Regions from separate parts of the Homo sapiens genome. Here all the other regions are linked to region 5. Evidence: fine-mapped expression QTL. A gene starts in region 5. Each other region holds a variant in brackets. All regions are shown on one strand. Distances are between the middles of the regions. Region 1 overlaps TSC22D4-C7ORF61 (TSC22D4-C7orf61 readthrough). Region 2 holds the start of SPDYE3 (speedy/RINGO cell cycle regulator family member E3). Region 3 holds the start of STAG3L5P-PVRIG2P-PILRB (STAG3L5P-PVRIG2P-PILRB readthrough). Region 4 holds the start of STAG3 (STAG3 cohesin complex component). Region 5 holds the start of TSC22D4 (TSC22 domain family member 4).

Region 1 (5,866 bases), 23 kb before region 5:
CCTCCTACTACTTCCTGCACATGGTATTCTTTATCACTTCCAAAATGACATTCCTAGCTGGGTGCAGTGGTTCACACCTGTAATCCCAGCACTTTGGGAGGCCGAGGTAGGAGGATTGCTTGAGGCCAGGAGTTTGAGACCAGACTGGGCAACATAGCTAGAACCCATCGCCACAAATATTAAAAAAGAATTAGCTGGGCATGGTGGCATACACCTGTAGTTTCAGCTATTCGGGAGGCTGTGGTGGGAGGATCGCTTGAGTCCAGGAGTTGGAGGCTGCAGTGAGCCATGATTGCGCCACTGCCCTCCAGCCTGGGCAACAGAGCCAGACCCTGTCTCTAAAAAACAAAAACCACTGGCCGGGTGCAGTGGCTCACGCCTGTAATCCTAGCACTTCGGGGAGCTGAGACAGGTGGATCATCTGAGGTCAGGAGTGCAAGACCAGCCTGGACAACATGGTGAGACCCTGTCTCTACTAAAAATACAAAAGTTAGCCGGGTGTGGCCAGGCGCGGTGGCTCATGCCTGTAATCCCAGCACTTTGGGAGGCCAAGGCAGGCGGATCACGAGGTCAGGAGATCAAGACGATCCTGGCTAACATGGTGAAACCCCGTTCTCTACTAAAAATACGAAAAAAAATTAGCCGGGCGTGGTGGCATGTACCTGTAATCCCAGCTACTCAGGAGGCTGAGGCAGGAGAATGGTGTGAACCCGGGAGGCGGAGCTTGCCGTCAGCGGAGATCATGCCACTGCACTACAGCCTGGGTGACAGAGTGAGACTCTGTCTCAAAAAAAAAAAAAAAAAAACCAAAAAACAAAAACGGTTACATGGGTGTGGTGGCAAGCACCTGTAATCCCAGCTACTCCAGAGGCTGAGGCAGGAGAACCACTTGAACCCCACGGGCGGAGGTTGCAATGAGCCGAGATCACACCACTGCACTCCAGCCTTGGCGATAGAGTGAGACTCCATCTCAAAAAAACACACAAAAAAACTGTCATCAAGAGGCAGCTTCCTTCTGCCCACCCCTTTCCTTCCTCTCCCACAAGTCTGCCTGTGCCTGCTCAGCCAAGCCTAGACAGGGCTCCAGATCTGGGGAAGGAGAGAGTGATGGGATGTGCCTTGGTTGCTGGCTGAACCCACCTTCCTTAATTTCCCTTCCACTCCCAAGAGCTGAAGAAGCCAAAGACAAACGAGAGCAGTATTCCTTTCCACAAGCCCACAGCGTCAAGCCTGGATGAGCTCCTGGGCCTGTAGCTACTTGCAAGGCTATTTTACCAGTGACCCTCAGAGGCCCAGCTTCGTCCTACTCTCCCCTCCCCTCCTCTCACTGAAACCTCAGGTCCCCAGCGATGAGGAGCTCATCTCTAAAGACTCGGAGGGGCTGATCCCGGATGTTAGACAGCTAGGTACTACTCCAAACCTCAGGACCCATTAAATCTCAGGGCTTCCTGGGACTCAGATCCTGCACCAACACCATTCACCCCCAGAAGGGTTCCTGGCAGATAATAGAGACGTGATGAATAATTGGTGATTGAAAACTCCAGACATGAGCTGCTCTTTATTAGTCTGTTTTGAGGCCCCGCCTGAAAACCTGAAAGCAGGCTTTGACTTTAGGCTTCACTCAGGACTGATTCCCAGTGAAGTCACTTAACTCATGTGTTGAACACCTGCTGTGTAACATGTGCAGAATGAAAGCTACATGACCTTTCTTTTCTCTTTCTTTTTTTTTTTTTTTCTGAGATAGAGTCTCACTCTGTTGCCCAGGCTGGAGTGCACTGGTGCAATCTCACCTCATTGCAACCTCTGCCTCCCGGGTTCAAATTATTCTGTCTCAGCCTCCCAAGTAGCTGGGATTATAGACACATGCCACCACACCCAGCTAATTTTTTGTATTTTTAGTAGAAACGGGGTTTCACCATGTGAAAAAGATGTTTTAAGAGATAAGGTCTTGTTATGTTGCCCAGGCTGGTCTCAAACTCCTGAGCTCAAGCAATCCTCCCGCCTCAGTCTCCCAAGGTGCTGGGATTATAGGCATGAGTCACCGTGCCCGGCCTTGCTGTTGCTTTTGTGAAACAACCCTGCTTTTTCCTGGAGAGCCACCTCTGCACCTTCATGTGGCTTGGCTACTCCGAGAGGGGACCTGAGGCTGCTGGGTCTCCCTTCTTGTTGTCTCCGTTGCCCTCCAACCTCCTTCCAAATTGCCACAGCCTCCCTCTAGGTCCTTATTCCCACGGTGCCAGGCCAAATCCCTCACCCAGCTCCTAGGCTGCAGCCTTCACCCGGCCCTGCCGTGAGCATGGTCCCTGTAGAGCCCCCTGGAGGTGTAGTTTCAGCTCTTGGTGAGGCGCGGGCAGCAGGCAGCGGGGCTGGAGTTCCTTCACAGCACGTGGATGCATCTCCCACAGCCCCCATGTGCGTCTGCAGACGCACAACTCTCCACAGCCAAGCCCATGGCAAAGCCCTTCAGCACCAGAGAGGCAGGGTAGTGGGCTACCCCTGGGAGCTGGCAGTTTCCAGCAAGGCCTCCTTTGCTGAGCCTTGGACAAGTCCCGTAATCCACCCTAAATACCTTTCTTGTAGGATCGCTAAGGACAGCAGCTGACGGGACTGGGTCCTTGGTGAATGGCAGCTGTTACCGTCCTTATAAGGAAAGGTGGAGTTACAAACAGGCATTTTGGCCCCAAGAAGGGGGTGGGACCCAGAGCAGAAACGTGCTGACCATGCTTCCCCCCAAATAGACCCACAGGTGACCCCTACTGGGATTTAGGCCCTCACCTTAGGGGT[C/T]TCTCCCTGACCCACCCAAACTCCTCTCATCCCCTCCCGCCGTCCACAAACACACTCCATACTGACTCAGAACTATCTGATATTTATTTCCCAATATTTTGATACTTGTTTTACAACTGGAATACATGGAATGAAGGGGCTGATATGGGACCCCAGGTAAGAGTGAGGTCAGGACTCTCTAAGGGTCTGGGGTTCCCCCTAGAGGGGACTTTGGGCATCCAGTTTCAGGGACTGAGCCGGGTTGGGTCGGGGGGCAGCATGGCATCGGACGTGGTGCCGTCTGTGCCTCTCCTGCCTGCGGTACAGCCGGCGCAGGTGTTTCCGAACGGCCCACAGCACCAGGTACACCTCCCACAGCAACTCAGCCTCCGGAGTCTTCAAAGGTGACTGCGTCCTCACTTGGGAGCTGACTGAGGCAGAACTCACTGATGACTGTAAGAGAAAGAGAAGATGTGCATGCGTAAATAGCTGGGTCTAGGGAGAAACTGCCGCTAGAACGACCCATAGATAAACAGCAAAGGGCTCCCTGATTCCACCTCTCCCATCAGCCCAACTCATACATCACCTCCTCCAGAAAGCCTTCTCAGGTTGCATCAAATGTTTGTCATTTCTATCCTTTTTTTTTTTTTTAATGAGACGGGGTCTTGCTATGTTGCCCAGGCTGGTCTCGAACTCCTGGGCTCAAGAGATCTTCCTGCCTTGGCTTCCCAAAGTGTTGGGGATTACAGGCGTGAGGCATCACACCTGGCCCATCAGTTCTATTCTTCTTTTTTTTGTTGTTTTGAGATGGAGTCTTGCTCTATCACCCAGGCTGGAGTACAGTGGCATGATCTCAGCTCACTGCATCCTCCACCTCCTGGGTTTAAGCGATTCTTCTGCCTCAGGCTCCTGAGTAGCTGGGATTACAGGTGCTCGCTATCACGCCCAGCTAATTTTTGTAGTTTTAGTAGAGAAGGGGTTTCACCATGTTGGCCAGGCTGGTCTCGAACTCCTGACCTCAAGTGATCAGCCGGCCTCGGCCTCCCAAAGTGCTGGGATTACAGGCGTGAGCCACCATGCCTGGCCTTTTTTTTTTTTTTTTTTTTGAGACAAGGTCTCACTCTGTCACCCAGGCTGGAGTGCAGTGGCATAATCTCAGCTCACTGCAACCTCCACCTCCCAAGTTCAAGTGATGCTCCCACCTCAGCCTCCTGAGTAGCTGGGACTACAGTCGTGCACCACCATGCCCGGCTAACTTTTATATATATATATGTGTGTGTGTGTGTGTGTGTGTGTGTGTGTGTGTGTGTATATATATATATATATTTTTTTTTTTTTTTGTAGAAATGGGGTTTTGCCCAGGCTGGTCTTGAACTCCTGAGCTCAAGTGATCCACCTGCCTCAGCCTCCCAAATGCTGAGATTACAGGCGTGAGTCGCCACGCTCGGCTTAAACTGTTTTTTTGTTTTGTTTTGTTTTGAGATCATTGTAGACTGACTGACCTGCAATTGGAAGAAATCATAGAGATCCTGTGCACCCTTTACTGAGTTCACCTCATAGGAAAATCTTGCAAATCTATACTATTATATCATAGTCAGGATATTGACATTGATCCAATCTACTGATCTTATGTAGATTTCCCCAGTTGTACTTGTACTCACTGGTGTGTGTGTGTGTGTGTGTGTGTGTGTGTGTGTGTGTGTGTGTATAATTTTACCAAGTTTTATCCAGTATGCAGGTTCATGTATCCAACTACCACAGTCAAGGTACAGAACATTTCCATCGGGCAGGAGAAACAAAAAACAAAAACATAAAAACAAAACAAAACAGAAAGCTACAGAACATTTCCATCAGACAGGAGAAAGCAAAAAACAAAAACAAAACAAAAAAAGATACAGAACATTTGCATCATCACAAGTGTCCCTCATGTTGTCCTTTAATAACTACACTCTTCTCCCCCTATCTCTGTGGCCCCTGGAAACCACTGAGCCACTAATATGTTTGCCATTTCTAGACTTTTGTTATTTCAAGAGTGGTAGATAATATAAACGGAATCATTCAGAATATAACCTTTTAGGATTGGTTGTTTCCACTCAGTATAATTTCCTTGAGGCCGGGCCCAGTGGCTCATGCCTATAATCCCAGCACTTTGGGAGGCCAAGGTGGGTGGATCACCTGAAGTCAGGAGTTCCAGACCAGCCTGGCTAACATGGTGAAACCCCATCTCTACTAAAAATACAAAAAATTAGCTGGGTGTGGTGGTGGGCACCTGTGGTCCCATCTAATCGGGAGGCTGAGGCAGGAGAATAGCTTGAAGCTGGGAGGCGGAGGTTGCAGTGAGCCGAGGTCGCACCACTTCATTCCAGCCTGGGCAATGAGAGTGAAACTCCGTCTCAAAACAAAACAAAAAATTTCCCTCAAGATTCACACCCACGTTACTGTGTGTATCAATAGTTTGTCCTTTTTACCTTTTTTTTTTTTTTTTTTTTGAGACGAAGTCTCCCTCTGTCACCCAGGCTGGAGTGCAGTGGCACAATCTTGGCTCACTGCAAGCTCCGCCTCCCGGGTTCACGCCATTCTCCTGCCTCAGCCTCCCGAGTAGCTGGTACTACAGGCGCCTGCCACCACGCCTGGCTAATTTTTTTGTATTTTTTTTTTTAGTAGAGACGGGCTTTCATCCTGTTAGTCAGGATGGTCTTGATCTCCTGACCTCGAGATCCGCCTGCCTCGGCCTCCCAAAGTGCTGGGATTACAGGTGTGAGCCACCGTGCCCGGCCTTTATTTTTTCAGGCAGAGTTTCACTTTTGTTGCCCAGGCTGGAGTGCAGTGGCATGATCTCAGCTCACTGCAACCTCCGCCTCCCAGGTTCAAGCGATTCTCCTGCCTCAGCCTCCCGAGTAGCCCACCACCATGCCCAGATAATTTTTTTGTATTTTTAGTAGATACAGGGTTTCACCATGTTGGCCGGGCTGGTCTCGAACTCCTGATCTCAGGTGATATGCCTGCCTTGGCCTCCCAAAGTGCTGGGATTACAGGCATGAGCCACCACGCCCGGCCCTGTCCTTTCCGTCTTTTTAGAATTTTATTTATTTGTGTGTTTGTT
Region 2 (5,866 bases), 170 kb before region 5:
GGCAACAGAGAGCTGATTGTACCACTGCACCCCAGCCAAGGCAACAGAGACCTTGTCTCTAAAAAACAAAAACAGGCCAGGTGCAGTGTCTTATGCCTGTATTCCCAGCACTTTGACAGGCAGAGGCAGGTGGATCATTTGAAGTCAGGTGTTCAAGATCAGCCTGGCAAACATGACGAAACCCTAAAATACAAAAATTAGCCGGGAGTGGTGGTGGGTGCCTGTAATCTCAGCTACTCGGGAGGCTGAGGCAGGAGAATCACTTGAACCTGGGAGGCAGAGGTTGCAGTGAGCCGAGATGGAGCCACTGCACTGCAGCCTGGGTGACAAGAGCGAAACTCTGTCTCAAAATATTAGGAAAAAAAAAGAGAGAGAGCCTCTTTTCCATCTCCCCGCCACAGAGTTGTCTTCAGTAATTTCATTCCCTTTTTTCCTGAGGATTCACTGGGTTTCTGGGTCCCAGAGGGGAAGTTCTCTTCAAGGTACAGAAACCACGACTCCGCAGAGAACCGCAGAGACGGCGGCATGACCAGACCACGGACAGGTGTGGAGAAGCTGCTGGGCTAAAACTTGGGCTGAACTTCCGCTGCAGGTCGACTTATTCCCATCAGCACCAAAGCCACTGGAGGGGGTCATCCACTAGCAAATGAAGTGGGGGCACGGATTGGAGGCTGTTTCAGAAGGTCCCACTGAGCCACGGACTCAAGGCCTGGCCACAGCCCTCCCAAGCAAGGCCCAGATCATATTTCACCACGCTCAGAAAACCTTGTCAGCTCATTTCAGTCCACGGTGACTTTGCTTTCTTTAGGATCTCTCTTGCACTGTCCAACTCAGAGAATTTCAAATCTGAATGGATTCCAATGATGGAGCTAAATCAGGCCTCACCTCAGTTTTTTAATTACAATCAATAGGGCTGGGTCCCAGCATCTGTGTCTTAATGTTCCTCCATGTGATCCTCATGCTGAAAGGCTGGTATTTGAAAATCCCTTTTTTTGGGGAGTGAAGGGTTTTTTTTAGAGACAGGCCTCACTCTGATGCCCAGCCTGGAATGCAGTGGTAGATCACAGCTCACTGCAGCCTCGAACTCCTGGCCGCAAGAAATCCTCCCACCTTAGCCAACCAAAGTGTTGGGATTGCAGGAGTGACCACTGTGTCCAGCCAGGAAAGCCCTTCTGTTTCACTTGAATGATATTTCTGCCGCAGACCTACAGCCATTGTTGTATTAAACGGCATCATTGCAGGAAAAGAAAAGGTGAGAGGTGACTGTTTTGCTTTTTTCTGAACATATCAGACCAAACCTGGGCTGTCTGGCACTTTTTTTTTTTTTTTGAGTCGGAGTCTCACTCTGTCGCCCAGGCTGGAGTGTAGTGTCGTGATCTCGGCTCACTGGAACCTCCACCATCCCGGTTCAAGTGATTCTCCTGCCTCAGCCCCGCAAGTAGCTGGAATTACAGAAGTGCACTCCCACACCCAGCTCATTGTTTCTGTATTTTTACAGAAAAACAGACAGGTTTCACCATGTTGGCCAGGCTGATCTCAACCTCCTCACCTCTGGTTATCTGTCGGCATCGGCTTCCAAAAGTGCTGGGATTACAAGTGTGAGCCACCGCGCCTGGTTTGCCCATTTTTTGACAATGTATCAACATCATCTAAGATGGGCACTGCCTCAGTGTAGTGTGTCTAGACAAGGTGGCCGGAACAGAGAGGAATATGCATACCAGGCTTAAAGACGGGTTAAATCAGAGCTTTTCATTCCACAAAAGAGCAATTTTAATGAGGTCAGAACATGGATGTTCTAATATTTGAAAGCCTGTTAACTAGGAGAGAGAGAGAGTAAAGTGATTTGTTGTAGGAGGACACACCCAGCTCTGACGGTTTAAAGCGTCATGAATGCAAATTTGAACTCCAGAAAAGCAGAGCTTCCTAACAATGGGACTTCCACAGCAATGGGATTTCCTTCCACATTCAGTTTGTGCCTTTCCCATGAGCGAGAGACTCCTAGGAGAGCCGCAGCCCGTTAGGAAGCCATGTGGGAACTCATCCACAGGTTCTTTTTGTTTGTTTTTTTTTTTTTTTTGAGATGTAGTTTTGCTCTTGTTGCCCAGGCTGGAGTGCAATGGTGCGACCTTGGCTCACTGCAACCTCCGCCTCCCAAGTTTAAGCCATTCTGCTGCCCCCGCCTCCTGAGTGGCTGGGATTACAGGCACCCACCACCATGCCTGACTAATTTTTTGTATTTTTAGAAGAGATGGGGTTTCACCATGTTGGCCAGGCTGCTCTTAAACTCCTGACCTCAAGCGATCCACCTGCTATGGCCTCCCAAAGCGCTGGGATTACAGGCGTGAGCCACTGTGCCTGGCCGGAACCCACAGGTTCTTTGGATGGTCTCTGAATGTCATGAAACTCTTTTATATTTAATTAAAAAAATTTTTTTGACACAAGGTCTTGCTGTGTTGCCCAGACTGGAGTGCGGTGTCACGATCACAGCTCACTGCAGCCCCTAACTCCTAGGCTCAAGCAATCCTCCTGCCACCTCAGTCTCTCAAGTTGTTGGAACACAGGTGCCAGCCACGACACCTGGCTAATTTTGTTCTGTTTTGTTTTGTTTTGTTTGAGATGGGGTCTTGCTATGTTGCCTACACTGGTCTTGAACTGCTGGCCTCAGGCAGTCTTCCTCCCTTGGCCACCCAAAGAGATGGGATTGCAAGCATGAGCCACTGTGCACAGCTGAGATTTTTCGACTTAGTCTTTTTGTACACCCAGTATCTTATAGAATATCCATAATATAGATTCATAAATAAACCATTTCCTTCAATAGTATAAATAAATAAACCACTGCTATAAATGGTGGAATTTCTGAGTTAAGAGCAATACATATGATACAAAACTTGATATATAGAGTTTCTTAGCCAAACTGGAGGGGCTGGCTTTAGGTGATCCGTGGACTCCCTGAAACTGGGGACACCATTGGAAATATGTGTGAGCTCATGGGCAGTTTCCGATGATTTCCAGTCCTCAAAATATCTCTTGGACTCAAAGATGCCTTAGGGCAGAGGACACGTTACACCCAGTACAGAATCTCGGACAGTGAATATCAGTAAACATTCGGCAGAAAAGCTCTGCCAAATTGAGTGCTCTGATGTGACTTTTTCATCAAGTCAATGTTCCTGGGATCTCTTGTACATGATACTCTCACTCTTATAAGGTTTCATCGTTTCTGCTTACCCTAGTTTTCTTTCCCATCCTGATCCCTCTCCCACCAGACTGGACTCTGAAACGGGCATGTACAGAGAAGAGGAGACCCCAACACGCTTCAAGCTTTGAGTGGAGAGGACACAGCCTCTGCTGGGACAGGGAACAGAGGGATGCGGAGACCCTGAAGATGCTTTTGGACAGTGGTCTGAGGTTGGGACAGTGGCAGGAGATACCATTCACCCAGGATCTCCAGGACAAGAGATCAGCCTGGCAGTTACATGTGTTTTTGTTCAAACTGGTTGCCAGGTTGGAATGACCTATGACATCAGAGATTCCGACCTTCCTGATTGGAAGGACCGGACTCTGTCGGCGCCTGGCAGTTCAGGTGAACAACAGTAACTTCTCAGAGCTGTTCTCCACTCCTGACTTCTCCCAGCCTCGAGAATTGATAACACACTCTTCTGGATCCCAGCAGTGTCCAGAAGAAGACCAAG[G/A]ACAGAACAGAGACTAGCTTCGGTGAGATTGGACAGATTTTGGGAAAGATCATGACGAGCCATCAACCGCAGCCCCAGGAAGAGCAGAGCCCCCAGCGGAGCACCTCAGGGTACCCCCTCCAGGAGGTGGTGGATGATGAAGTGTCGGGACCATCAGGTGAGGGGACTGGAGGAAGAAGAGGTGGCATAGGATTGACTAAGACGAAGGAAGGGGGCCAGGTGCGGTAGCTCACCCCTGTAACACCAACACTTTGGGAGGCCGAGGCGGGCAGATCACCTGAGGTCAGCAGTTCAAGACCAGCCTGGCCAACATGGTGAAACCCCATCTCTACTAAAAGTACAAAAATTAGCCAGGCGGTAGTGGTGTGTGCCTATAATCCCAGCTACTCGGGAGGCTGAGACAGGAGAATCGCTTGAGCCTGGGAGGAAGAGGGTGCAGTGAGCCGAGATCGTGCTACTGCACTCCAGTCTGGGTGAGAGAGTGAGACGCTGTCTCAAAAAAAAAAAAAAAAAAAGAAGAAGAAAAAAAAGAAGGGTCAGAGGTCAGGAAGGAGAACCTGGGGAGGGTGTGTGGGAAGAATGGAGAAATTCAGGCTGGGTGCAGTGGCTCACACCTGTAATCCCAGCACTTTGGGAAGCCAAGGCAGGCGGATCACGTGAGGCCAAGAGTTTGAGACCAGCCTGGCCAACATGGCGAAACCCCGTCTCTACTAAAAGTACAAAATTGAGCTGGGCATTATGGCAGGCACCTGTAATCCCAGCTACCTGAGAGGCTGAGGCAGGAGAATAACTGGAATCCGGGAGATGGATGTTGCAGTGAGCTGAGATTGTACCACTACACTCCAGCCTGGGTGACAAAGCAAGATTCTGTCTCGAAACAAAAAAAAAAAAAGAGGGCCTCAGAGAGCCAGGGACCAGGGAACGATATGACGCAGTGTTCTGAGGACAGAGAGAGGGAAGAATGGGGAGGGGAAGGAGTGGCACATGGGGTTGAGCAGAGGAGAAAGTCAGAAAGGTGGCTTGGAGAAGCCAGCAGTCTGAGAGGCTGGGGAGGATGGAGAATGGTTTGGGGTTTGGGGTCGGGGTCTAACGTGATCAGTTGCAGAAGCATTACACGGTGGCCTGGTTTCTTTACTCAGCCCCTGGGGTAGATCCCAGCCCCCCACGTAGGTCCCTTGGCTGCAAAAGGAAGAGGGAGTGTTTGGATGAATCTGATGATGAGCCAGAGAAGGAGCTCGCCCCTGAGCCTGAGGAGACCTGGGTGGCGGAGACGCTGTGTGGCCTCAAGATGAAGGCGAAGCGACGGCGAGTGTCGCTCGTGCTCCCTGAGTACTACGAGGCCTTCAACAGGCTGCTTGGTAGGAGGACACCCCAGAGAGCACCTCCAATCCTGTTCTTTCTAAAAAGAGGAAACTTCCAATAACCACACTTTTCCAATGGGAAAAATATGCCCCAGTGGGTGAGCTCTCCATGCGGGAGGACTCTGAAGTGATCACTCATGAGGGACACTTAGGAGACAACAGAGGATTAGGTAGACTTGATAAAGGTCGGTGCTTGGGATAAGAAAGCTTGGTTTTGGGCCAGGCGCTGTGGCTCCCGCCTGAGATCCCAGCACGTTGGGAGGCTGAGGCAAGAGGATTGCTTGAACTCAGGACTTCGAGGCTGCAGTGAGCTATGACTGCACCACTGCACTCCAGCCTGAGTGACAGAGCAAAACTCTGCGTCAAAAGAAAAACCAAGGCTGGGCACAGTAGCTCATGCCTGTAGTTCCAGCTACTCGGGAGGCTGAGACAGGAGAATCGCTTGAGCCTGGGAGGAAGAGGGTGCAGTGAGCCGAGATCGTGCTACTGCACTCCAGTCTGGGTGAGAGAGTGAGACGCTGTCTCAAAAAAAAAAAAAAAAAAGAAGAAAAAAAAGAAGGGTCAGAGGTCAGGAAGGAGAACCTGGGGAGGGTGTGTGGGAAGAATGGAGAAATTCAGGCTGGGTGCAGTGGCTCACACCTGTAATCCCAGCACTTTGGGAAGCCAAGGCAGGTGGATCACGTGAGGCCAGGAGTTTGAGACCAGCCTGGCCAACATGGTGAAACCCCCGTCTCTACTAAAAGTACAAAATTGAGCTGGGCATTATGGCAGGCACCTGTAATCCCAGCTACCTGAGAGGCTGAGGCAGGAGAATAA
Region 3 (5,866 bases), 140 kb before region 5:
AGCTCGCTCCAAGGATGCAACACCGGATCCGCCTCGGGGACTGGGAAAGTTCCCTCCACGGCTCCCACAGGCGCCCCGCCTCCTGGGCTCCCAACGGCTGCTTTCGACGTTGTGCTCCACCCTTTCCGGGCGGGGCGGAAAAAATACTTCCCGTCTCTCCTTTTCGCCTAGTGGCTCTGTCAAAGGTCGAGTCCGTGACGTCAAAGAGCCTGGACCAATCAGAGCACACCGGACTGCGTTTTTTCCGAACGCCAGCAGCAGGGTCAGAAGGGAGGTAGTCGCCCTCCGTCGTGGCCTGGCGTGGATTCCGAGCGTTGGTGTCTGGCGGTTTCCGACCGTTGGTGTCTGGCACGCGCCACCCCGATGTACCAGGTAAAGCCCTATCACGGGGTCGGCGCCCCTCTCCGTGTGGAGCCCACCTGCATGTACTGGCTCCCCAACATGCACGGCAGGAGCGGCGGCCCAGCACTCGGCACTGGCCACTTGCAGGTAGGAGCGCGGGGCCCCCCCGCCCACTGCGCACGCGCGGCGGCCCGTTGCTGGCCCAGGTGCCCCTAGGCCGGATAGAGTGCGTCCCAACCGATTCGCGGCCCCACCCCGGCATCTGTGCCGGCCGGCCAGGGGGTCACCCAGATTTTTATGTTTTAAAAGATTTATTCAGGCCGGGCGCCGTGGCTCACGCCTGTAATCCCGGCACTTTGGGAGGCCGAGGCGGGCGGATCACCTGAGATCAAGAGTTCGAGACCAGTCTGGCCAACATGGTGAAACCTCGTCTCTACTAAAAATGCAAAAATTAGCCGGGCATGTGTCGGGCGCCTGTAATCCCAGCTACTCGGGAGGCTGAGGCAGGAGAATGGTTTGAACCCTGGAGGCGGAGCTTGCAGTGAGCTGAGATCGAGCCATTGCACTCGAGCCTGGGCAGCAAGAGTGAAACTCCGTCTCAAAAAAAAAATTATTATATATATATATATTTTTATATATGTTAAATATACCTTTATTATGCGTATTATACATATTGTATATTATGTGTAATATATAACATGATATATTATAAAATATATATTATATATATATATATCTTTCCTGGTCGAGCGCGGTGGTTCACGCCTGGAATCTCAGCGCTTTGGGAGACCGAAGCGGGAGGATTGCTTGAGCCCGGAGAGTTTGAGACCACCCTGAGCAACATAGCAAGACCCTTGTCTCTATGTTTTTTTTTTTTTTTGAGTTGGAGTCTTGCTCTGTCGCCCAGGCTGGAATGCAGTGGCCTGATCTCGGCTCACTGCAAGCTCCACCTCCCGGGTTCACGCCATTCTCCTGCCTCAGCCTCCCCAGTAGATGGGACTACAGGCGCCCGCCACCATGCCTGGCTAACTTTTTTTTGTATTTTTAGTAGAGACATGGTTTCACCGTGTTAGCCAGGATGGTCTCGATCTCCTGACCTCGTGATTCGCCTGCCTCGGCCTCCCAAATTGCTGGGATTACAGGCGTGAGCCACCACGCCCAGCTGCCTTGTCTCTATTTTTTAAATGTTTTAATTAAAATAAAAATCTATCCATATTTTTTCTTTTTTTTTGCGTATGGCTGCTTAAACATTTTAGTTCAGAATTCTATCCTCTGAAAAGTGAGTAGCACATAAATGCTCATTTTGAGGAATTACAAAGCGAACCCCAGGGTCACCACCTCCCAGGTTGACACACATTGTGACCGCTCCATTCTTTCCACTTAAACCTTCCCCACCAACATCCCAGGGCCCGATTTTTATGGTAATTATGTCCTGCTTGTCTCTATTATTTTGTCAGCTAAGTATCCCTAAACAATATGGTCTGGTTTTTTGTTTGTTTTTGTTTGTTTGTTTTTTTCAGACGGAGTTTCACTCTGTCACCCAGGCTGGAGTGCAGTGGCATGATCTCGGCTCACTGCCACCTTGGCCTCCTGGGTTCAAGGAATTCTCAGGCCTCAGCCTCATGAGTAGCTGAGATTACAGGCGCTGTCCACTGCACCTGGCTAATTTTTGTATTTTTAGTAGAGACGGGGTTTTGCCATGTTGACCAGGCTGGTCTTGAACTCCTGACCTCAGGCGATCCGCCCGCCTTGAACTCCCAAAGTGCTGGGATTACAGGTGTGAGCCACCGTGCCCGGCACCTAAACAACATAGTTTTGATATAGGTAAGCATACAGCATATATTTTGATGTATTTCAGGTAATTTAGTCTAAGAACAGGAAAGGACAGAAAATGAACACAATTTGTAGTTCTTTGTTGTTAACAAACTAAGAATACTTTGCTTAAATAAGTAGCAATGAGAATGTAACTCAGTAATTCATACAAATAGACAAGAAGACAAGAAAATGATTTGAGGACAGCTTCAATCGCGGTGTGAAGAAGAAAGCAACAAAACGACCACTGAAAACAATGCCGGTGAGTCAGCCAGTTTTGTTTTTGAATCTTGTCAGGGAAGCAGCCCAGCTATTCGGGAGGCTGAGACAGGAGAATGGCACGAACCCCGGGGGCAGAGCTGGCAGTGAGCCGAGATCACGCCACTGCACGCCAGCCTGGG[C/T]GACAGAGCGAGACTCAGTCTCAAAAAAAAGAGAAAACCTAAGAGGTTCAGGTGATATGGTTCAAAAAAGGACAAGATTTACAAAGTATTAAGGGACGGAAATAGGAAGAAGAGAAATTTCGAAGAGAAAAGAAAAGAAAAGGATGTTTGGTTATAGAGATACAGGAAGGGGACTCAAGGAATTTTTTTTTAAAGGGAAAAAAGTTAATAAACTTCATAATATAAAAATCAATTATTTTAGGACTGAGTCTAACTCAGACTCTGCTGTGGAATTGGCAGCGTAAGCCTACTTGTGTGATAATGATGAAACCAAGTGTTAATGTCACTGTTACCTTTTTTTCATATTTCTGATCTTTTTATGTGTATCAGGTGGCAAAACATCCAAAGAAAGGGTCCCAAGTGGTACATCGTCATAGCTGGAAACAGTCAGAGCCACCAGCCAATGATCTTTTCAATGCTGCGAAAGCTGCCAAAAGTGACATGCAGGTAAAGCAGTGTCTTACCTCTGTTGATACCATCTCACTTTTTGTAAGGTGGTAAGGACAAGTGTCTACAAACTTGATTTGATGTGAACATTTTAGTGAGTGTAACATATCAAGAAAGATAAGATTATGGGGTGAATCCTTGGAGTGATAGAAGGGTAACCTTGAATAAGAGAGCATGTTCTTTTTTTTTTTTTTTTGAGACAGAGTCTCTTTCTGTTGCCCAGGCTGGAGTGCAGTGGCACAGTCTCAGCTCACTGCAGCCTCTGCCTCCTGGGTTCAAGCGATTCTTATGCCTCAGCCTCCCAAGTAGCTGGGCTTACAGGCATGTGCCACCATGCCTAGCTAATTTCTGTATTTTTAGTAGAGATGGGGTTTCGCCATGTCGGCCAGGCTGGTCTCCAACTCCTGACCTCAGGTGATCCGCCTGCCTCGGCCTCCCAAAGTGCTGGGATTACAGGTGTGAGCCACCGCACCCGGCTTCGAGAGAGCGTTTCTTTTCTTAAAGCGTGTTCTTTTCTTAAAGGTATCACAGGAGTGATTATGCCTTTGTTGATTGATGGAGCAGATGGGGAGAGGCATTGCATGACATGGGAAGGAAGCTTAGATGTGGGTGGCACCTTGTTCACCCATGTTATTTTTTAGCTCCATCTTGACAATTATACTTAATTATTTTTCCCTCTCTCTGTTTCTTTTTTTATAATTTTATTGAAGTTCTAATATCTGAAAGTGTACAAAGCGTATATGTAGTTTAAAAAATAAAAATGAGATATCACCCAGATCTCTAGCCCCAGCTCAAGAAATGAAACATTAATAGTGCTGTAGAGATCCTTTGTGTACCTTCTTTCTACCCTACCTCACAGTCCCCTTATTACCCATAGGTAAACACTAGGGTGAATTTTGTGTTAATCTTTGTCATTTCATTATAGTGTTACCACTATGAATGTGTTCTTTAATTATGTAAATGAATCCATTATTCAGGCTTCTGTGATTTAATTATTTCAGTTAACATTGTTTGAGATTTATCCACATTAATGTGTAATTTTATAGTTTCTGGGAAAATATTTAAAATTTTCAAACATACAGAATTTTGCTAGTTATATTTTCGTTATTTGATTTCTAACTTTATTGTGTTGTAGTCAGGGAATGTGGTGTTTGAAATTTATGTAGGGGCTGGGCGCAGTGGCTCACAGCTGTGATCCCAGCACTTGGGGAGGCTGAGGCAGGCAGATCACTTGAGGCCAGGAGTTCGAGACCAGCCTGGCCAACATGGCGAAACCCCATCTCTACTAAAAATACAAAAATTAGCTGCATGTGGTGGCATTTGTCTGTAATCCCAGCCACTTGGGAGGCTGAGGCATGAGAATTGCTTGAACCCAGGAGGTGGAGGTTGCAGTGAGCTGAGATTGTGCCATGGCACTCCAGCCTGGGTAACAGAGTGATACTCTGTCTCAAAAAAAAAAAAAAAAAAAGACATTTATGGAGACTTAGCCTTATGGCCTAGTATTGAGTTGGTACATTCGTTTTATCTTTTCTGTTTCTTTTTCCCCCTTTGCTTACTTTCCTCTGGATTTCTTATCTTCTACAAGGACCTGAGCACATTTTAATTCCAGTTGTCTTTTCCACCTTACATGCAGTTGTACAGTGTGTTAGTTTTTTATTTGAAACGGAGTCTTGCTCTGTCACCAGGCTGGAGTGCAGTGACGCGATCTTGGCTCACTGCACCTCCGCCTCCCGGGTTCAGGCGATTCTCCTGCCTCAGCCTGCCAAGTAGCTGGGACTACAGGCACCCGCCACCATGCTTGGCTAATTTTTGGCCACCATGCCCAGCCTGAATGAACTTTCAAAATTGGTTTTTAAAAGAGGTATGGAGGCCGGGTGCAGTGGCTCACACCTGTAACTCCAGCACTTTGGGAGGCCAAGACGGGCAGATCACTTGAGGTCAGGAGTTCGAGACCAGCCTGGCCAACATGGCGAAACCCCATCTCTACTAAAAATACGAAAAGGTAGCTGGGCGTGGTGGTGCACCTGTGTATTCCTTTCATCTTTCTCATTATAGGATTTCTGACAGGACTCTGGGCCCCTCCCCAGCTCCACTCCCTACCTCAAGAATGTGACCATTTGGAAAAGGCAAAGAGAAAAGGAGCAAAATGAAGCATTCCCCCAGGCTTCAGCCCTGGGCTCTGAGGGGAAAGAGTGGGGCATTGTTTTTCTAACCTAACCTTTCCCTCTGGTGATGTTGGGGTAGAGAAGCCGAGAGACCCTGTCCTCCCTAATGCACTGTGGCCCAGTCCCCTTGCCTTTTTCCTGTTCTGTTTGGAGTGGAGAAGGGCAGCACCTCTGTGTTTAATGGAAGTAGCCCATAGTCTCCTGGATTTTTGGAACATCTTTTTCAGCCTATTTTGTGTCCTAATGATTCACTCAATAAACATGTTTGAATCCACACGTTCCCAAGGTGTGGCTTGAGATCGTTAAACTGATGGAGGTCAGGTTCTTGGTCCGCCTTGTCCCATGGCCCAGTGTATAGGTGTCCCCACACCCCGCAGGTGCTTTGTCTACAGGCTCTCCAGGAAGTATTGCTTAGTAACTGAGAGGCGGGGTGAGGCAGTAGAGATGGGGAGAGTTTGACTGCCTGTGAGTAGTTTATCTAGTGGCCTCAGCCTCTGCAGTAGTAAAAGTTGTGCTGACAGGTGGCAGAGTGGAGCAGGACCTTGTGAAACTACCTGTCTCACCCACGTGAGCCAGGCCAGACCCTGTGTCCTGGCAGCCTTCATCCATGGGTTCTTTCCAAAGGAAATTTTATCCTCTCATCCGAAAGATACCTGTCAT
Region 4 (5,713 bases), 300 kb before region 5:
GTCTGGTCCAAAACCCGCCCAATGGAGTAGGAGATTGAGGGTAGCGGGGGTGGGACCTGGGTGGGGGCGGGGCTAAAGCGGGCCGCCCGCGTGCCCAAGCCCACGTGAGAGGGCAGGACGCCTGAGAGCTTGAGGCCACACGAGGCTGTGGAGCGGCGTGACTCAAACGTGGCGCGCATCAGCTCGCACACTTCCAAACCTCGCGATAGCTACTGGCCCTGGGCGAGCCGTTGGGATTGCGCTTGCGCACAGCGTGTCTTGTACGTTCCCGCGCTTTTCTGGAATCTTTCGCCCCCGGAAGGGCAGCGGCGGGCGCCTGTGTGGAAGGTGGGGTGGCCAGAGACACCCGAGGGACCTGAGGTGGGGACCTTCCCTGAACCCTGCTCGGCCAGAAGTCACTCTTCCAGGCTCTGACAGGTTTCTCCTTGACCCAAGAATAGGCCCTCTCGCGACCCTCCCGGCCCTGACACTAGGAGCCTTCCCGGGCCGTGCCCCAATGGCCTCCGCCACAGAGCTGGAGAATCCTCTCCCCAGGCCTCCATAGACTGAGAGTCCATTCTCTTAAGCGCTTGGAAGGCTCTTTATCCTGGAGCCGCTTACCCCAGGGGCAGTCGTAGATATTTTTACCTTCTGGAAAAATAGGAAACGCGCACCTGCCTTTCCTCCTTTTGCGTTTCCAGCCCTATTCTCATGGCGCCTCCACCCCCAAATCCTTAAGAGCCTCCTGTTCCATTCCAGGTGGAATCAGGTGCTAGTCCTCTGGAAACGAAAGCCTGGGGTCTTCTTGTATTTTTTTTCTTATTTCTTTCTTTATTTTTTTTATTTCATTTTAAAAAACCTGTAAGTTCCCTTGCAGAGGGCGGTTTATACTTCCGAAGCCTCCAGAGAGGGGTGCGTCTGAAGCTGCCCTGCTGTCTGCCTTGCTTGGCTTTTTTTTTTTTTTCCATTTAATTTTTTTTTTTTAGAGACAGGGCGTTGCTATGTGGCCCAGGCTGATCTTGAATTCCTGGACCCAAGCGATGCTCCCGCTTCGCCCTCCCAAAGTACTGGGATTATAGGCGGGAGCACTGTGCACCACGCCTCGGCTTTTGGAGAGCAATTCCAAACCCACTGCCCAGTTTCTGGTGTCTGTAATCCCTTGGTGCTTTAGGTCCACTCTTTGCCTTATTTTATTTATTTGTCATTACTTTTTTTTTTTTTTGAGACAGAGTCTCGCTCTGTTTCCCAGGCTGGAGTGCAGTGGTGCAGTCATAGCTCGCTGCAGCCTCGACCTCCTGGGCTCAGGCGATCGTCCCGCTTCATTCTGCCGAGTAGCTGGGACTACAGGTGCACCACCACACCTGGCTAGTTTTTTTGGTTTTGGTTTGGTTTTTTCGTAGAGACAGGATCTTGCTATATTGCCCAGACTGATTTTGAACTCGTAGGGTTAGGCAGTCCTCCTGCTTCAGCTGCTCAAAGTGCTGGGATTCCAGGTTTGAGCCACCCTGGGCACCTTGCCTTTTTTTTTTTTTTTTTAATTATGAGTTAAATTCCCTTGCAGCAGGCAGTTTACACTTCTGAAGCCTCTAGAGAGGGCTGTGTCTGAAGCTGCCCTGGTGTGTACCTTGCTTGGGTTTTGTTTTTTTTTTTTTGGGTGTGTCTCATGTTGCCAAGGCTGGTCTCAAACTGCTGGGCTCAAGCAGTCCTCCTGTCTCAGCCTCCTGAGTAGCTGGGACCACAGGTGTGCGCAACAACACCTAGCTAGTTTTTGCTTATTTTTTGTAGAGATGGGGTCTTGCTATGTTGCCCAGATTGGTCTTGAACTACTGGGCTCAAGCAGTCCTCCCGCCTCAGCCGCCTAAAGTTCTGGGATTACAAGTATGATCTACCACACCCAGTGTGCAATTTTTTTTTTTAAAGAAAATACCTATGAGTTAAATTTCCTTGCAGTAGGCAGTTTGCACTTCCACAGCCTCTAGAGAGAGATGTGTCTGAAGCTACCCTGGTGTGTGACTTCCTCAGCTTTTGGAGAGCAACTCCAAACCTGCTGGCCAGTTTCTGGGGTGTTGTTGTGCTTAATCCCTTGATGCCTTAGGTCAGCTCTTTGTCTTATTTATTTATTTATTTTGAGATGGAGTTTCACTCTTGTTGCCCAGGCTGGAGTGCAGTGGCACGATCTCAGCTCACCACAACCTCCGCCTTCTAGGTTCAAGCGATTCTCCTGCCTCAGCCTCCCAAGTAGCTGGAATTACAGGCATATGCCACCACACCCGGATAATTTTGTATTTTTAGTAGAAATGGGGTTTCTCCATGTTGGTCAGGCTGGTCTCGAACCCCTGACCTCAGGTGATCTGCCTGCCTCGACCTCCCAAAGTGCTGGGATTACAGGCATGAGTCACTGTGCCCAGCCATTTGTCTTATTTATCATTACTATTTTTTTGAGGGGGGACAGGGTCTTCTTCTGTCACCCAAGCTGGATGGAGTACAGTGGTGCGATCGTAGCTCACTGCAGCCTTGAACTCCTGGACTCAAGCAATCCTCCCACCTCAGCCTCCTGAATAGCTGAATACAGGCATGCTCTACCACACCTGACTAATGATTATTATTATTTTTTTTTTAGAAATGGGGTCTTGCTGTATTGCCCAGGCTGGTCTTGAACTCCTGGGCTCAAGCCATCCTCCTGCCTTGGCCTCCCAAAGTGCTGGGATTATAGGCATGAGCCACGGTGCCCAGCCTTTGTCTTAGTTTTTGGTCCCCCTCACCTGACCCCAGAGTTCTAGAACCATTCCCTTGGAAAGAAAGGGACTGGTCAGGGCTGGGGATGGAGAAGTGCTGTGGTAGGAGCCCTTTCTTCTCTTTCTTCCCCAGCTGGATCGCCATACCTACCCTGTGGTCCTCATCTTCCTGGCCTCATAGCTCCTCCTCTCCAAGCATGTCTTCCCCGTTGCAAAGAGCTGTGGGAGATACCAAGAGGGCCTTGTCTGCATCTTCTAGTTCCTCTGCCAGTCTACCCTTTGATGACAGGGACTCAAACCATACCTCAGAGGGGTAAGTAGATGTTGCATTGTGTGGCCACTTCCTGTGTCCCTGGCAGCCTTCCCCCTCGTTTTCCCACATTGATGATAATATGCGTGGGACTGTGTGAAAACACCAGAAGTGCTATACTCGTTCAGCACAGTGACACCCTCCCTCCAGCTCCAGGTGTTTTTTTTGGCGGTCCTAGATGTTGTAGACATCAAAATAGTAGTACATCCTGTTTTTTTTTTTTTTTTTGAGACGGAGTCTCGCCCTGTCGCCCAGGCTGGAGTGCAGTGGCGCGATCTCGGCTTACTGCAACCTCCGCCTCCTGGGTTCAAGCACATCCTGTTTTTAATCCATCATCCATCTTGTCTAAACCTCTCTTAAACACATTTCTATGTTCAGCATGTACCAACCCTGGTGGGGGCTGAGAGCTGGCAGATGGGGGAGTAAAGAGTTCTTTATTTGTTGCCTGGTAAATTGTATATACTTTTTGGCTAGTGTCCCCTATTTCTTCTACTTGGGGATTTTGTAAATAGGTCTGTGTATCCTTATTTATTACCATATATGAGTTTATTCTGTGTAGGTTATAATAATATATCTTGGTTTTTTACCTTTCCAGAAGGAAAAAAGCGAATTTCATACAGATCTGCTTTATCCCCTGGCTGTTTTAATTGGC[T/G]TTCTCTGAATCATTTCTGTTTCTGTCAGTGCTGCTGTGGGGGACCAGATTATATCAAAGTTATAAACTTGAATTGATAAGACATGTGGTTTATGTTTCAAGGGGGTGAAATTTAACTCTAGATACATATTACTCTCCCATTTATGGATGAATGATAGATGACTTCCTGAGCCATGATTATCTTTCTCTACAAAGAGCAGTGATCTCGCTACCTGCTAAGTGAGTATCATTTGATTCTCTTCTTCGGAGAGAATACTAGGAAGAGTTGTCCTTCTCCTGCCTCATTTCCTCATTCTTCATCTCCATTGCTTTCATGTGAAAGTTTTCCTTTAAGGCTTTGTCCCGGCCGGGTGTGGTGGCTCATGCCTATAATCCCAACACTTTGGGAGGCCGAGGCGGGTGGATCACCTGAAGTCAGGAGTTTGAGACCACCTTGGCCAACACGGTGAAACACCTGTAATCCCAGCTACTCGGGAGGCTGAGGTAGGAGAATCGCTTGAACCTGGGAGGCGGAGGTTGCAGTGAGCTGAGATCATGCGATTGCACTCCAGCCTGGGTGACAAGGGTGAAACTCCGTCTCAAAAAAAAAAAAAAAAAAGACTTTGTCCCAACTTCCTACTAACAATAAGCTCATTTTTTCTTAAAATCTGGATATGTTTTTCTCATGGAGATGGGGTGCGGTGAGAGACAGAGAAACCATAATTAATTAGCCTTTTATATGGAGGGAATAGGGTGGTTATATTTAAAGAGAACCATACTTTCTCACAGGAATGGCGACTCTTTGTTAGCTGATGAAGACACTGACTTTGAAGACAGCTTGAATCGCAATGTGAAGAAGAGAGCAGCAAAACGACCACCGAAAACAACACCGGTGAGTCAGCCAGTTTTCTTTTGTTTTTGAATCTTGTGGGGGAAGCAGCCCAGCTACTTGGGAGGCTGAGGCAGGAGAATGGCGTGAACCCAGGGGGCAGAGCTTGCAGTGAGCCGAGATTGCGCCCCTGCACTCTAGCCTGGGCGACAGAGCGAGACTCCGTCTCAAAAAAAAAAAAAGAAAAGAAAACCTAAAAGAGGTTCAGGTGATACGGTTCATAAAAGGACAAGATTTACAAAGTATTAAGGGATGGAAATAGGAAGAAGAGAAATTTTGAAGAGAAAAGAAGAGAAAAGGACGTTAGGATGTAGAGATACAGGAAGGGGACTCAAGGACTTTTTTTTTAAGGGAAAAAAATAAACTTCATAACAATATAAAAATCAATTATTTCAGGACTGAGTCTAACTCAGACTCTGCTGTGGAATTGGCAGCTTAAGCCTACTTGTGTGATAATGATGAAACCAAGCGTTAATGTCACTGTTACCTTTTTTGTTTTTTTTTCATATTTCTGATCTTTTTATACATATTAGGTGGCAAAACATCCAAAGAAAGGGTCCCGAGTGGTACATCGTCATAGCCGGAAACAGTCAGAGCCACCAGCCAATGATCTTTTCAATGCTGTGAAAGCCGCCAAAAGTGACATGCAGGTAAAGCAGTGTCTCACCTCTGTTGATACCATCTCACTTTTTGTAAGGTGGTAAGGACAAGTGTCTACAAACTTGATTTGACGTGAACATTTTAGTGAGTGTAACATGTCAAGAAAGATAAGGTTATGGGGTGAATCCTTGGAGTGATAGAAGGGTAACCTTGAATGAGAGAGCATGTTCTTTTTTTTTTTTTAGACAGAGTCTCTTTCTGTCGCCCAGGCTGGAGTGCAGTGGCACAGTCTTGGCTCACTGCAGCCTCTGCCTCCTGGGTTCAAGCGATTCTTGTGCCTCAGCCTCCCAAGTAGCTGGGATTACAGGCGTGTGCCACCACGCCCAGCTACTTTTTGTATTTTTAGTAGAGATGGGGTTTCGCCATGTTGGCCAGGCTGGTCTCCAACTTCTGACCTCAGGTGATCCGCCCACCTTGGCCTCCCAAAGTGCTGGGATTACAGGCGTGAGTCACTGCACCTGGCTTTGAGAGAGCATGTTCTTTTCTTAAAGGTATCACAGGAGTGATTA
Region 5 (5,866 bases):
AACAGGAAGGAGGCTGAGACAGAAAATGAAGTAGGAGGAAGGGGCTTCAGAGTGACCTGGCAGGCACAGAGAAGAGGGCTATCTGATCTTATAAAGTGATGGAGAAGGAGGAGGAGAGGGGGGGGAGGAGGAGGAAGGAGGCTCAAGATAGAGGTTAGGCCAGGGCTGATGGGCCAGCCCTAGAACCCAGGTCTTACCTGCCCCATCTCTTCTGGAGCACCCAACTCCATCCGCAGCCGCATGTCTACAGCTTTCCTCCGGGACAGTGGAGGGGTCCTGGCCCCTGAGCCCCCAGCCTCCGCTTCCACCCTCAGAGAGGGCAGGGGCGTGGCAGCCCGGGATGTGCCCGCACTCTCACCGGTCTCAGGCTCTGGGGGGCGCTGCTGGGGTGAGGAGGCCGACAGTGGGGGTTTCTCTGCCTTGGCTTTGCTGGGCACCACCAGCTGGCCCAGTCCCCCAGTGAAGGAGCGGGCCTGAGGTCCAGGAGAGGTGGGGGGTGGACGGAGCCAGGAGGTGGGGCCCTGAGACAGGCCTGACGGTGGGGTGGGGGCGCCCAGGCCGAGGCTGGCCAGCTCCAACCTGGAATCCAAAGATCTGCCCCCGGCGCCCCCTGAGGCCCCTCGAATTCCCTCCAGGAGTCCGCCGAAGCTGTGGGGCTCCAGGTCTCGCTCATAAACATCCACACACGTCCAGCGACCGCGGCGATAAGGCTCTCCCAGGCCGTGGGGCAGCTTCACCACCCGGAAACGGGAGGAAGGGGCCCCAGGTGGTGGGGAGCCATTCCGGGGGGTGCCCTTGCCCCCCGGATCGGGGCTGGGCTCCCCATTGGGCAGGCGGGGCGGGGGCCCGGTTGGGGGCTGTGGGGTAGGGGGATCCGAAGCCCCTGGGCTCCCAGGGCCCTCATAGTCCGTGGTGACGCTGGTGATTTGGAAACTACTCTTCTTCTTGCCCCCGCTCATGGTCCCTGGGGCTCAGGGCTGGGCCAAGGTTGGGGGTGGGTTGGGGCTCCTTGAAGGGGCTCAGGCACCCCTGGAACAAGGGGGCCACATGGCGGGGACATCCGAGCCCCTGGGGACGTCTGGGTCCGACATGGCAGGAGGGCCTGGCGGGAACCGGGGGTGCCTGCTGGGTGAGGGGAGAAGAGGAGAGGGGAGGTGGCGGGAGGGGGGAGCAGGGGCAGGTTTTTCCTGCTGCTGTTGCTGCTGAACTCCAGAGCTGAGTTTGCAAACTGGAAAAAGAGGGGGAGAGAGAGAGAGAGAGAGAGAGAGAGAGTGTGTGTGTGTGTGTGTGTGTGTGTGTGTGTGTGTGTGTGTGTGTGTGTGAAACCAGTGGGCAGGCCACCTCCGGGGCTTCCTCTCCGGGGAGCAGAGTGGGGGAAGGGGAAACCGTCAGAGACCCAGAGACAGGCAAGAGATGACAGAGACCAGGGCAGAGGGGACTGGATCCAAGAAGGCACTCAGAGTAGAAAGAGGCAGATGAGTCCCAGAGTTGGGCATTTCTCGCCTGGGATTCTGACTCAGGGGGCCCGTATTGTCCCAAGAGCTCGGACTCCAGGGCCTGGGAGAACCAGGCTGAAGCAGCTCCCCAGCCTGGCCCGGCCACTCAGAGAGACCTCTCCTGGGCCTCGAGCCCCCACCCTCACCCCAGCTCCCACATCTCTGGGGCAGGCCCTGCCCGGCTACCCCCCAGCGCCCCACCCAGCCCTGAACCCTACCTCTGGGGCCTCGGCCACTGATCTGAGCCTGAGGGTCCCGGCGCCTAAGAGGTCGGGCTGTCCGTTCCCTGGGGCCTCCTGGCCATGGGCAGTGGCGGGGCACGCAGGCGGCGATCAGAGGCTGTCCCGTCCTCTCCGGGGGCCGCGGCTCATCCTGCCAGGCATCTCCGAGGAAAGTTTGCTCTCCGGAAAAGAAGAAACCCGCGCCTCCTCCGAGGAGCCTAGGAGCGGCCTCTGAAGCCCCAAGGGTCTGGAGACTGATGTGGGAGGGGGCGGCCGAGCCCCCCTCTGCTCCCGGTGGCAGCCAGCGAGTGGGTGTCCCGAGTCTCCTCCCGCGTGACCCTGCTGGGTCCGTGTCTCCGCTCCTCGGCTCCCCTGGGTCTCTGCCTCTCCGTCTTTCTCTTTCTGGGCTGTTGACAACCCCCACACCAGGAAGTCCTGCCTCCTCGGGCCTGCTGACTGCTCCTCTCCTCCTCCTCCTCCTCCTTCCCCTCTTCCTCCCCTTCCTCCTCCCTCCCTCCCTCCTGGGGCTTCCCGCCAGCTGGCCCGGGGCCAGGCCTGCCACAGCCGCTGCTGTTGCAGTTGCTGCAGCCACTGCTTAGGCTGCTGCTCCTGGGGGCCCCAAACAGACTCCCTTAACCCCACACCTGCCGGGCCCTAGCCCCACTCTTGCAGGGAGGGGCTGCAGGGGGCGGGGCTCGGGGAGAAAGGGGAGGAGCTTGCAGGGAGGCGAGGGATTCCCTTACTTGTAGTCAATTGCTGCCATTGGCCTAGAGACACACAGAAGAGACGGAAGGCACAGGCCGGGAGGTGTGCTGCATGCCCACCCAGAAGTTCCCAGTCCCTGCTGTGGGGCAGCTGTGGCTGTTACTGTCATTCTCCTTTGGTTTTCACAGCAACTGCATTATTCCCCCCATTCCTTATTTTTAAAAGTGGATTATTGCCGGATCCCGGTGGTGGCTCATGCCTGTAATCTCCGCACTTTGGGAGGTCGAGGAAGGAGGATCGCTTGAGACCAGTTTGGACAATATAATAGCAAGACCCCATCTCTACAAAAAATAAAAAAAAATAGCTGGGCATGGTGATGTGCACCTATAATTCCAGCTACTCAAAGGTGGGAGGATCGCTTGAGCCCAGGAGTTCGTGACCAGCCTGGGCAATATAACGAGATCCCCATCTCTACAAAAAATTTAAAAAATTAGCACTTTGGGAGGCCGAGGCGGGCGGATCACGAGGTCAAGAGATTAAGACCATCCTGGCCAACATGGTGAAACCAAGTCTCTACTTAAAATACAAAAATTAGCCAGGTGTGGTGGCGGGCACCTGTAGTCCCAGCTACTCGGGAGGCTGAGGCAGGAGAATCACTTCAACCTGGGAGGCGGAGGTTGCAGTGAGTCGAGATCACGCCACTGCACTCCAGCCTGGTGACAGAGTGAGACTCCATCTTAAAAAAAAAAAAAAACTGAGTGTGGTGATGTATACCTGTAGTCCCAGCTACTCAGGAGGCTGTGAGGCAGGAGGATCTCTTGAGCCCAGGAGGTTGAGGATGCAGTGAGCCAAGATTGTGCCACTGCACTCCAGCCTGGGCAACAGAGTGAGACCATGTCTCAAAAAAAAAAAAAAAGTGGATTATTATGAAAATTTTCAAACATGCCATGCAGACATGGGGAGACCATGCAAACTCCACACAGATGGTGGTCCCAGCCCAAAATCAATTTTTAGAAAATCATCAATGTTATAATGAAATGACATTCAATGAAATGACATTGTGTGGGGGCCAGCTGTAGTTTGCTGGACTATTTGAAATCAGATCCTAGATGTTATACTATTCCCCTTTCCCCCAACCTGCCCCCGCCTTTTTTTTTAGAGACAGGGTCTCTCTCTCTCTCTGTTGCCCAGGATGGAGTGCAGTGGTGCGATCATAGCTCACCACAGCCTGGAACTCCTGGGCTCAAGCCATGCTCCTGCCTCAGCCTCCCAAGTAGCTGGGACCACAGACACACACTACTACGCCTGGCTAAATTTCTTTAAAAAAAAATTTTTTTTTTTGGTAGAGATGGGGATCTTGCAATGTTGCCCAGGGTGGTCTTGAACTCCCGGCCTCAAGTGATCCTCCTGCTTCTGCCTCCCTAGTAGCTGGGACCACAGGTGTATACCACCATACCTGGCTAATTTTTTAGTTTTTGTAGAGACAGGTTATTACTATGTTGCCCAGGCTGGTCTCGAATTCCTGGCCTCAAATGATACTTCCACCTGGGCCTCCCAAAGAGCTGACATTACAGGCGTGAGCCATGGTGCCTGGCCTCAGGGAAATTTCTAACCCCTCTTTTTTTGAGACGGAGTCTCGCTCTGTCGCCCAGGCTGGAGTGCAGTGGCTCTATCTCGGCTCACTGCAAGCTCCACCTCCCGGGTTCACGCCATTCTCCTGCCTCAGCCTGTAGCTGGGACTACAGGCACCCGCCACCATGCCCGGCTAATTTTTTGTATTTTTACTAGAGACGGGGTTTCCCCGTGTTAGCCAGGATGGTCTTGATCTCCTGACCTCGTGATCCGCCCGCCTCGGCCTCCCAAAGTGCTGGGATTACAGGCATAAGCCACCACGCCCGGCCTCTAACCCCTCTTTAGGGGTACGTAAAAATAAAACAATGCAATACCTACCCTCTTTATGTATTTATTCTTTATCTCTTTGTTAGAAGCATCCACACTTCTGTTTCTCTCCCTTAAGCCATAGTAACAACGGCTGCCATAGCCCAAGTCTGTGGGCCTCCCAAGTAGTGAAGTCTGGGAAGCAGCCTCCCACCTGCTCCCTACCCCTCTAGACTGCATCCCTCTGTCCCTTACAGAACCTTTTCTCCTCTAGCAACATTCAGAACACAGCCTTGGTCCCTCCTTCCCCAGACCCTCCTTCCTTCTTGCTGACTTGCTACAAACTATTCAAAAATTATCTTTGGGCAGTCTCTTTCTCTGCCTCAGGCACTGGTATCTGAGTCTAGAGGCCCTGGCACATTGTTGATCTCTGCAGAAATGTTTGTTGAGTAAATACATACAAATTTTTATATTTTAATTTGAGATGAAGTCTTGCTCTGTCACCCAAGCTGAAGTGCAGTGGCGTGATCTCAGCTCACTGAACCTCCGCCTCCCAGGTTGTGATTCTCCTGCCTCAGCCTCCCGAGTAGCCAGGATTGTAGGCACCCGCCACGACGCCTGGCTAATTTTTGTAGTTTTAGTAGAGATGGGCGTCTCATCATGTTGGCCAGGCTGGTCTCGAACTCCTGACCTCAAGTGATCTGCATGCCTCAGACTCCCAAAGTGCTGGGATTACAGACGTGAGCCACTGCTCCCGGCCTATACATATAAACTAATCATACTAAAGGTATAAATGTGAAATGGGTTTTAAGTGTTTTAATATTTCCCTCCCCTGGGAGCATTCTTAATAGCCTATAATATGTGGGACCTTTTACAATTTACAAGGCACTTTGGTATTATTTTACTACCCCTCCCCTTCCAAAGAATGGACTAAAGCCAGCTTGTCCAACCGCACGGGCAGCTTGTGGCCCAAGACAAATTGGTAAATTTTCTTAAAACGCCTAAGTTTTGGTTTTTGTTTTTGTTTTCGTTTTTTTTTTTTTTTTCTCTGAGACAAAGTCTCTCTCTCTCACCCAGGCTGGAGTGCAGTGGCCCGATCTGGGCTCACGTCAACCTCTGCCTTCCAGGTCAAGCGATTCTCCTGCCTTGGCCTCCCGAGTAGCTGGGATTACAGGCGCAGGCCACCATGCCCAGCTTATTTTTTCTATCTTTAGTAGACACGGGGTTTTGCCACGTTGGCCAGGCTGGTCTCAAACTTCTGATGTCAGGTGATCCACCAGCCTCGGCCTCACAAAGTGCTGGGATTTACAGGCGTGAGCCACCGCGCCCCGCCAGTGTTAAGAGTATTTTATGTGTGGCCCAAGACAAATTCTTCTTCCAATGTGGCCCAGGGAAGTTAAAAGAGTGGACATCCCCGGACTAAAGCGTCTCTCAGAGAGGTTGCACGATCTGCCTAAAGCCACACAGCAAGACTGCAAAGACGCTGCCATGGAAAGTAGCATTCGCAGGCTCCAGGGATCAGGCCGTGCCTATCTTTGCCGTGCCCATTTTCCAGCCCGTGGAAGG

The links. PIP is the estimated chance that this variant, and not a neighbour inherited with it, causes the effect.
Region 1: its variant is fine-mapped to the expression of TSC22D4 in whole blood (TOPMed, PIP 0.96).
Region 2: its variant is fine-mapped to the expression of TSC22D4 in blood mononuclear cells (TOPMed, PIP above 0.99).
Region 3: its variant is fine-mapped to the expression of TSC22D4 in whole blood (TOPMed, PIP 0.97).
Region 4: its variant is fine-mapped to the expression of TSC22D4 in whole blood (INTERVAL, PIP 0.95).

What each region holds. Positions count from the first base shown.
Region 1 is chr7:100,453,770-100,459,635 of GRCh38, forward strand. It overlaps TSC22D4-C7ORF61 (TSC22D4-C7orf61 readthrough), which reads right to left. Exons shown (of 6, transcript NM_001395846.1): 6 at 2,851-3,216. The coding sequence ends at 2,983. It overlaps SPACDR (sperm acrosome developmental regulator), which reads right to left. Exons shown (of 3, transcript NM_001004323.3): 3 at 2,851-3,216. The coding sequence ends at 2,983. Among named protein-coding and RNA genes, the nearest start is that of SPACDR, 7.6 kb to the right of the region's middle. RefSeq lists a silencer at 3,333-3,495. The variant C/T (reference allele first, on the strand shown) is at 2,785.
Region 2 is chr7:100,304,146-100,310,011 of GRCh38, forward strand. SPDYE3 (speedy/RINGO cell cycle regulator family member E3) reads left to right here and starts at 3,557. Exons shown (of 11, transcript NM_001004351.5): 1 at 3,557-3,846; 2 at 4,829-5,047. The coding sequence starts at 3,741. The variant G/A (reference allele first, on the strand shown) is at 3,690.
Region 3 is chr7:100,335,849-100,341,714 of GRCh38, forward strand. It overlaps STAG3L5P-PVRIG2P-PILRB (STAG3L5P-PVRIG2P-PILRB readthrough), which reads left to right and starts at 217. Exons shown (of 17, transcript NR_036570.1): 1 at 217-489; 2 at 2,331-2,416; 3 at 2,925-3,041. It also overlaps the pseudogene PMS2P1 and the pseudogene STAG3L5P. RefSeq lists enhancers at 1-197, 1-25 and a silencer at 516-585. The variant C/T (reference allele first, on the strand shown) is at 2,556.
Region 4 is chr7:100,177,646-100,183,358 of GRCh38, forward strand. STAG3 (STAG3 cohesin complex component) reads left to right here and starts at 273. Exons shown (of 34, transcript NM_001282717.2): 1 at 273-360; 2 at 2,848-3,027; 3 at 4,445-4,547; 4 at 5,078-5,194. The coding sequence starts at 2,912. RefSeq lists a silencer at 1-47. The variant T/G (reference allele first, on the strand shown) is at 3,677.
Region 5 is chr7:100,477,080-100,482,945 of GRCh38, forward strand. TSC22D4 (TSC22 domain family member 4) reads right to left here and starts at 2,135. Exons shown (of 5, transcript NM_030935.5): 1 at 1,715-2,135; 2 at 198-1,228. The coding sequence starts at 959. It overlaps TSC22D4-C7ORF61 (TSC22D4-C7orf61 readthrough), which reads right to left and starts at 2,135. Exons shown (of 6, transcript NM_001395846.1): 1 at 1,715-2,135; 2 at 198-1,228. The coding sequence starts at 959. RefSeq lists enhancers at 1,771-1,840, 2,541-2,650 and a silencer at 2,291-2,450.